2 linked regions of the Homo sapiens genome follow. The protein of the gene in region 2 interacts with the protein of the main gene of each other region in a pairwise test. Each region holds a gene or a part of one and is shown on either strand. Other genes may lie near its edges. The genes, in order: TMEM132D and PCCA.

Region 1 (3,811 bases), on a different chromosome or scaffold from region 2:
TGCGTTCAGAAAATCAAGTCAGTCGTTGGCGGACCTAAAAAATGGCAGACGGTATGAAACGGTGTAAGATCAAAGCTCCCCTATTCAAACTTTTTGTTTCCACCACCAAAATATTTCTCTACGTAAGCAGCCATCCTCACAAAGAATACTATGTAAGACTGTTGAACCCAGAAAAGTAAAACACAAAGCTAGCAGACCTCATTGAGGACCTGTGGCCAGCTGGATCTAGATCCGATTTCCAGAAGGACGGAAGGGAACGCTAATGAAGGCTTGGCCAGCGCAGATGTGTTCCTGTACCCTAAATCCCTGCGGCTATTCCGCGAATGGCACGTCCAGCCAGGCCAAAGGTTTTTACCTTCCAGGACTTAGCCAAGTTCAGTCATTAGATGCATGTCCATTAGGTTCTGTTTCTTTAGTTAAAATAGGCATTTCTAATACTAGGTCACAATCAAATAAACTTAAATGTGCAAGGTAGAATCAAAACGGTGATTTATTTTCTTAAACTCATCCACCCTTTAAACATAAAGGAAAAAAGGGGAGGGGAGAGGGGAAGGGAGGGGAGGGGAGGGGAGAAGGGAGGGGAGAAGGGAGGGGAGAGGGGAGGGGGGAGGGGAGGGAGGGGAGGGGAGACGGCATGGAGGGGAGGGGAGAGGGGAGGGGAGGGGGAGGGGGAGGGGAGGGGAGGGGGAGGAGATGGGGAGGGGAGGGGGAGGAGAAAGGGGAGGAAAGGGGAGGGGAGAGGGGAGAAGGGAGGGGAGGGGGAAGAGGAGAGGGGAGGGAGAAAGAGAGAGGGAGAAAGAGAGGGAGAAAGAAAAGAATAGAAAAAAGAAAAGAAGAAAAGAAAAGCTAGAAAAAGCAGCCATAAATCCCATATGAAGGGGGATAGAGAGCTGGTCATCATTGGATGAAGTTTATAAGCCCACATATGAAACATGTCTTACATACAGTTACACTCCTCATTTCAGGAGTCATAACACACATTTTATTACATTGCACATCAGGTCAAATTGTTGAGTTATGTAGCAGTGCTAGGACATTTTTAATAACCCAAAAACACTTCTACTAAACAGCTGTTGTAATCAAACTTGCCTGTGTTGAAAATAAAACTAAAACTATATAATGAAAATACAAACAAGCCTAGGCAAGTAGCTTCTCTCATACGTTATATTCCACAGTGAAAACCAGCCTATATTTATTCTAAAGTACACAGAGCTTATTTTCAATGTCTTCTCTTTGGTATATTCTTATATAAGAAACTCAACAAATTCTACTGTATATTCTTCACACGTTATGCTCATTTATTTTTTTGAACACTAAGTTCTATTTCCAGGGAGAAACAAAATGGTAACTTTGAGGTTGGTACCATATTATACTTAGAACTTACATATCTGGAATAGATTTTGAGTTGGCAAAACCGTGTTCCCTGTCCTTTCTGACAACTGTTGCCATTTCATTTGCAGTCTCATTTCAGCTGTGAGGCATTTAACTCTCCCAATTTTGAAAAGCCTTCTTGGATAATTTTAGCATTCCCAAAACTTGCTGATAATACCCTAAGCTAAGGGAAAAGGCGTACCATCAGCAGCCCCCCGGCTGCCCTATCAATGGCTTGGAAAATCTATTAAGACGAATATTCTCACAACCCAATTGCCAACCCGGAACGATCAGACTGGTCTCTGTATTCCACGGTGCAGATGGAGTTTGTAAGAACGGGAAGGCCGGCTCTACTTCGGTGAGCGATAACACAGCTTTTCTGGTCAAACAGCTTCTGGAAAACACCACCTGATCGACGGGCGGGTACAGACAGACATTGGGAAACGACTTACCTCAACGTGAAGCGATCTTCAGTGGAATTTCTGGAGATGGAAACAGGAAAAGTCAGCACGTCTCCTTTCCTCACGGTCTTTGGTATATAGTGGATGGCCACGCTGTTGTCCAGACGCAGTTCTCTCAGGGAGGGTTTCCTGTGTGTCTGATAAAGGAAGATGCTCCCGATCCTCTGCAAGGGGGGCCCGGACTCATCGATGTCACTGTGGCCTGTCCGGATCCCATTGCTTCTCCTCGCGTCTTCCCTGACGCAGTCCCCTCTCTCACCCCCTGGGTGCACGGTGTAGTAGAGCTCCACGGGGGTCCCCTCCGGCTGGTCCACGGACTTCCTCCTCCCGGCAACCACCGTGGGGGGGCTGAACCAGCTGGACAGGAGCTCCAGCTCGGCCACGCACAGCCCCAGGTCCCCCTGCAGCCGGCAGCTGCCCCGCACCTCTCGGGTCTCTCGGAAAGCAAAGACCCTCAGGCACGGCAGCTTCTCCCCGGCGCTGCGGTCGTCCCAGTCTCTGCCCATGATGTGGAACAGAACCTGCACTTTGGGCCGGCTCAGGTAGACTTTGTCCCGCAGGATGTGGGCTTTTAGTTTCCAGTTAAGAGAAAATTTGTTGGTGAATCCAAATGGGTTGGAAGGTAGCATTAAATCCTGGGGCACCACTTGCTCGATGGAGAAAGGCCCGTAGCTGGCATTGAGGACAGGCAGCCTCCTGGATTTGTAAATCAGAAATGACTCCACCCGGGACTGCAGGCTGGAGTTCCTCATGATATCCTGGTTGGCCTCCTTCAGGAAGAAGGAGACGTCCGCGTTGTTGATGTGGTAGGTCACGGGGAGGTAGGTGGGCAGCAAGGAAAACCTCTGGATGCTCTCAAGGATCCCTCGACCTTCCGTCACTGTGGGGAGGGAATCGCAGTGCAGGCGTTAGTAATGCTAAGGTCCTGTTACCAGCATTTCAGACATCTGCGTGCCCCCTTCATAACAGAGGACCCTGTCTTCGCGCCAATTATGCAATTCCTTATCCAAACCTCTTAATCCAATCTACTCGCTTCATATTATTTGTTTCAGAAGAAATAAATGCCACCAACCTAAGTAGAAAACCAGTATCATTTAACCTATAAAAAAGTTGAGCATGCAAATAAATACAATTCAAATACAGTTTTAAAATTTCCACTCGTGATAATGGTGTTTTTATGGGGTTATGGTAAAGACTTGCTCTTTTTTTGATCAAAGGAGAGATTAGCAAGTGTTAGAAAGCTGTCACAGACAAGCTACCATCGACAGAGAGGCACCGTCCCATTGACTCAACACAGACTGAGATTGGAAACAGGAATGACTTCCTCAACACATGGATTGATGCCACGTCCACATTCCACCTGATACATATTCCTTTGTGTTCCACTCATATGCACGTTCTGCATATACGCACATGTCCAATGGGAAATGCTAACAGACTTGGGGCAAAAATAGACGCAGATGCACAATCATAAATCACATGGACAGTGGACACCCGCCCCCAGTTGGAGTTAAGGGGAGAGATGCAGAGAAAATACCTTGGAAGGATATATTGGGAGGGGCCCTCTAGAAATAGATGAGATGAGGTGACCACGACACCAATGTGTCAGGGCCGGGCGTACAAAGCAATGCTCCAAGTCATCTATGAAACACTGGACCCTGAACCTAAGAAGCACGGGAAGGGCAGCACCTCGCTTCCATGCCAGCCACATCCTGTGGACACTACGCCGTCACCAACGAACAAAATCCATTGTTCATTTTTCCGCACTGAACGTATCTCTCCCTCAGGGGGAGAAAAATCCAAAATGTTATTTTCACAAGTTGCCTTACATTCTGTAAGAAAAATGCAGGCAGAGCAATTGCATAATCCAAAGAACCAATTTAAGGAGTTTTAGAAATGTAAACTATTGGCTGGGAACACTGACTTTCTAGGCAAAGCTCCACAAGTTATGCTGAAGCCCTTCTCGTCAGTCACCATGT
Region 2 (4,485 bases):
CAGCCACTTGGGAGGCTGAGGCAAGGGAATCACTTGAACCCAGGAGGTGGAGGTTACAGTGAGCTGAGATCGCGCCACTGCACTCCAGCCTGGCAACAGAGCGAGACCCCATCTCAAAAAAAAAGAAAAGCAAAGAAAAATCATGCAAGGCATATAAGAGTTCAATAATAACTATAGCAATTACCATAAAACCAACATCCTAGAGCCACTGAAAACATTTACGCAGAAGAAAAAACTAGGCATTAAAACAGAATGTGCTTAAAAAGCTGATACACAAAACAAATAAGACTAAAAGGTGAACTCTACATATACCCTAAAAATAAATAAACTCTGTTGACTGGCTAAAAGAATGGTCAGAATTCTCTAGACTAGACCCTAGAGTTAGCTGGCTGCTTTTCAACCAACCAAAAGGTTTGCAGAGGTGGAGGGAGGGATGGGAGGGGTTAAAATCTTCAAAAGATTCAGCTTCAAACAGACTCAGTAGAGCATATTTCAAGTTCATAGAAGAGAAGCGCAGAGAGAAGCTAAGCAGCAGCTCAAGTTCCCCTAGAGTGATAGTGAACTTCAGAGATGCTTCCCACCCCAAGGAGGAATTCTTTACCGGCACAAACATAATGCTACTCTATTGTTACACATTCAGCACCTATTGTGTCAAACATTGTACTAAGAACACAGAAATAGACAAGATGCAGTCTCTGCCAACACATTAAAAGGAAAAAACCAGGTAAGAATCATCAAAGCGTATGTATTACACAGTAAGTGTATAACAAGTGTACAACAGTAAGTACAGTAACAGCCTTCCTCTCAGCCTCTCCAATCTAAAATGTCAGTGTCATCCCTCCCACCTCCAACATCAATGTCTTCCCACTGCTCTAAGACAAACACCAAACCTCATAATGTGATCTATAAGAGCCAGATGGTCTGACTCCTGCCAGCTTCCCCAACACCATCTACTCTCTGCATCAGAGCCTCTGTAGGCTTTTTTCAGTTCTTCTAACCTGTCATTCCCTCTGGCCACAGGACCTTTGCATACACTGCTCTCTCACCTATAACATTCATCTCTGTTTGTTAGAAAAGGTCACTTCATCCTTCAAAACTTGTCTCAATTTTCAGTTCCAAAGGAAAACACTCCCTTACCGTAGATAGCATAGTATGATTAAGAGCACAGGTTCTGGAGTTCTAAATCCTGTTTGCCACTTATTGGCACTATAGCTTCGAGCAAGTCACATTAACACTCAGTGCCTCACTTTCATCTTCTGTAAATGGGGGACATACGACTGTTGTGAGATTGAATAAATTAGTTCAAGCAAAGCAACAGAACAGTATCTAGAACACAGAATTCAAAATCTTGGCTTGGTCAAATCCCTCTATTTTATTTTCTTATAGCACCCGGGCATCTCCCCTAATACCATTTTACACTTGTTACAGTCTCCCTACTAGAGTAAAATTTCTAAGAAAGCAGAAACCATATTCATTCCCCAGAAGTGGAAGACAGGAGATATTCAGTAAATATTTGTTGAAAAAAATAGCTACAAGGACGAAGCTGACGCCCAAGGAAGAGACCTGTCCAATATACAAAGCCTCATGCGCCTGACCCCAAAGCCCACACTTTACACCATACTAACTTGCCTCCTATGTAAATGCATAAGTCTTACAGCTGCAATTGAAGTGGCCAACACAGATGAACAGAATGATAAAGATTAAAGAACACTAAACTGTATGGGAACACAGAAAACAGTGAAAGTCCGCACGCTGAATTGGACACAAAACAAACATAGGTGCCACTCACTTCCATGTCGATAAGCTCCAGCTCTCATACTGCCCACCTGGGGCTCGGTTCCCTCCTCTTTAAAGAGTAGGATGGGGCAGGTCGTCTCTAAAGTGTCTTCAACGTCTAAAATTAAATGACTATAAATCAAGTTATGTGGCAATGTTTTAATAATTATTTTTTAAAAGGAAGTTTAACAAGCACACTGAACCAGCTGACAGATGGTTTTCAGGGGACCTTCATTTTAAAGAATGTGTTCAAGTGCCTCAACAAACCTTATAAAGTAGGTTAGGTGGTCTGTGCCCCAGAATTAACGACAGACTCGACATTGACTGGAGACAGAGCTCAGAAGCACACACAAGCACTCCAACCTGTTTGTCAATCTGCCATCATGACAGCCTAGGTATACAGAACAGTCATGAAATGTGTTTAGAACAGTGCCAAAATCAGGCTCACCACTATACCGAAAAGGAAAGTAAGTTCACGGGATGCATTTGGTACACAGTAGACTGGGGTGTCATACAATTAAAACAGGCTTTCAAATGAAACGTAAAATCTATTGGCAGTCCTGACATGGTATAATACTTTAAAAGATAAGACAAACTCACAACCCTAACACTACTTAAGCAACAGTTCACAGTGTCCCTTCAAAAATGCTGGAAAGAGGCAACAGAACACGGAAACTATAAGGACACCTAAAAAGACACCCTGGAAAGCTTAAGACAAAGCCAATGCCGCGGGGCCCTGGAAGCAGACCTCGAGCAATATGCCTGCCCAAAGCCATCAGCCGCCTCGGAGGGCGTGCGGGCACCCAACTGCCTCTGCCCTAGGCCTCTCTGCTCCGCAGGATCCCCGCGAGGAACAGCTGCAACGAGGGATGCCTCCTGAGCCCGCTGCCACGCGAACTCCGGGAGGGAGGAAAGCAAGCGGTGTAGCTGATGCGGAACCGGGGCGCGGGGGCAGCCGGACCCAGCCAGCGCTCTCCCGGCGCCAGCCGCCCAGAGGCGGCACGGCTAGAAGCCCAGTGAAGCCCGGACCCGCGAGGCCCCGTTGCTCCTCACCTTCAGGGTCCGCAGCGCCGCGCTCAGCATCAGCTGCTGCGGCGGCCACCGCCCACGCCGTCCGGCAGCGACCAGCGGTGCTGTCCCGACCCAGAACCCCGCCATTGTTGTCCCCGCAGACCGCCCCTCTGCTGACCTCTCACACAGCCGGAGGGGGTGGAGAAGGGGAGCGCAGGAGCTCCGGCAAATCACGAGCCAGAAACCCGATGCCCCGCCCCCTAACTTGCGGAAAGGGGAGGGTGAGTGGTCGGCCAGATCCGCCGGATCCGGGATCCGGGAGTCGCGCTAGGACCTGGAGGGCTAGTCGGCGGGCTGCGCGTCCGGCCGCTAGCTGAGCTGGAGGCCACCGGCCAGAGCCGACCCCAGGAGTGAGAGAGACAGGGGCGTGCGTGAGTTCCGGCGGCCTGCACCGGGCAAACCCCGTACCTTCCCAGCATCGGCTCAGCAACCCACGTGCATCCAGGCCGGTCAATGTCATTGAGTCACCTCCGCGCCTTGGCCACCCTGGAGTCCCGAGAATCCGAAGTTCCAGACAAATGCCCAAACTACATTCCTGCATGTTCGAAAGCGTAAATTGCAAAGCACAAATCCAGGTAAGGTTTTTAACGACTGTAATAACACATAAAAAGTTCTAGGTCTGGAAATCAGAGATCCGAGCTCAAGTCCTACCTCTGGCACTTAATATGTGTGTGTGAAAGAAATTAGCCACAACTAGAGTCAGTCTTTGTTGCTCGCAAGCAGAAACCCTTGTTAGTACAACTACTGGCCAGGCGCAGTGGCTCACGCCTGTAATCCCAGCACTCTGGGAGGCCGAGGCGGGAGGATAACCTGAGGTCAGGAGTTGGAGACCAGCCTGGACAACATGCCGAAACCCCGTCTCTACTAAAAAATACAAAAATTAGCTGGGCGTGGTGGCGCACTCCTGTAATCCCAGTTACTCGGGAGGAGGCTGAGGCAGGAGAATTGCTTGAACCCTGGAGGTGGAGGTTGCAGTGAGCCGGATCATGCCACTACACTCCAGCCTGGGTGACAGAGCAAACTCCGTTTCGAAAAATAAAATAAAAATTAGTACAACTATTAAGGGCCGGGCCGTGTGCTAGAGCCTCAGATTCCCTCTTACTTGAGAGTTTACAAGAACCTTAATGGAGTATATATTATTTCCATTTGGAGAAACTGAAGCTGTAGCAGGGTAAAGTCACTCAGCGAGTAAAAGGTCAAACTAGGGTTTGAACCCAAATCTGGCTGCCTTGAGGGACTGGGCTCATGTTTTGCTATATTATGGAAATTTTAAAATATATACAAAAGAGATAAAATTGTACTATGATCACCCAGATACCCATTACACCGCGTCAATGAATCAACATTTTGTCAATCTTGTTTCATCTATTCCCCTTTTTATTTTGTGCAGGAATATTTTAAAGCAAATCTAAGACATCAGACCACCTCACCTATAAACACATCAGTATTGGGGGTTCTCCTCTTAACTACTTTGCATCTCCTGCAGAGTCACCTTGAGAGAGTTACAAAGCTAGGAATGGCCTAGAGTACACTACAGCATGGTAAATGCCCAAAGAGAGAGAAATAAAATGGGGATATCAGAAAGGTGACATTTAATGGAATTTTAGAATGTAAGTAGGGACTTTTGTGACAAAATGA

Evidence for each region.
Region 1: the proteins of PCCA (region 2) and TMEM132D interact in a two-hybrid assay, tested with the Homo sapiens proteins (one large-scale study listed by BioGRID).

What each region holds. Positions count from the first base shown.
Region 1 is NC_000012.12:129,697,987-129,701,797, forward strand, and holds part of TMEM132D (transmembrane protein 132D precursor), read right to left. Parts: intron 2,713-3,811; coding exon 1,824-2,712; intron 1-1,823. UniProt on the Homo sapiens protein: Regulate neuronals morphology via inhibition of the WAVE regulatory complex (WCR), a complex that controls F-actin cytoskeletal dynamics.
Region 2 is NC_000013.11:100,087,570-100,092,054, reverse strand, and holds the start of PCCA (propionyl-CoA carboxylase alpha chain, mitochondrial isoform a precursor), read right to left. Parts: upstream 2,963-4,485; 5' UTR 2,935-2,962; coding exon 2,830-2,934; exon of another isoform or gene 1,796-2,829; coding exon of another isoform or gene 1,790-1,795; intron 1-1,789. UniProt on the Homo sapiens protein: This is one of the 2 subunits of the biotin-dependent propionyl-CoA carboxylase (PCC), a mitochondrial enzyme involved in the catabolism of odd chain fatty acids, branched-chain amino acids isoleucine, threonine, methionine, and valine and other metabolites.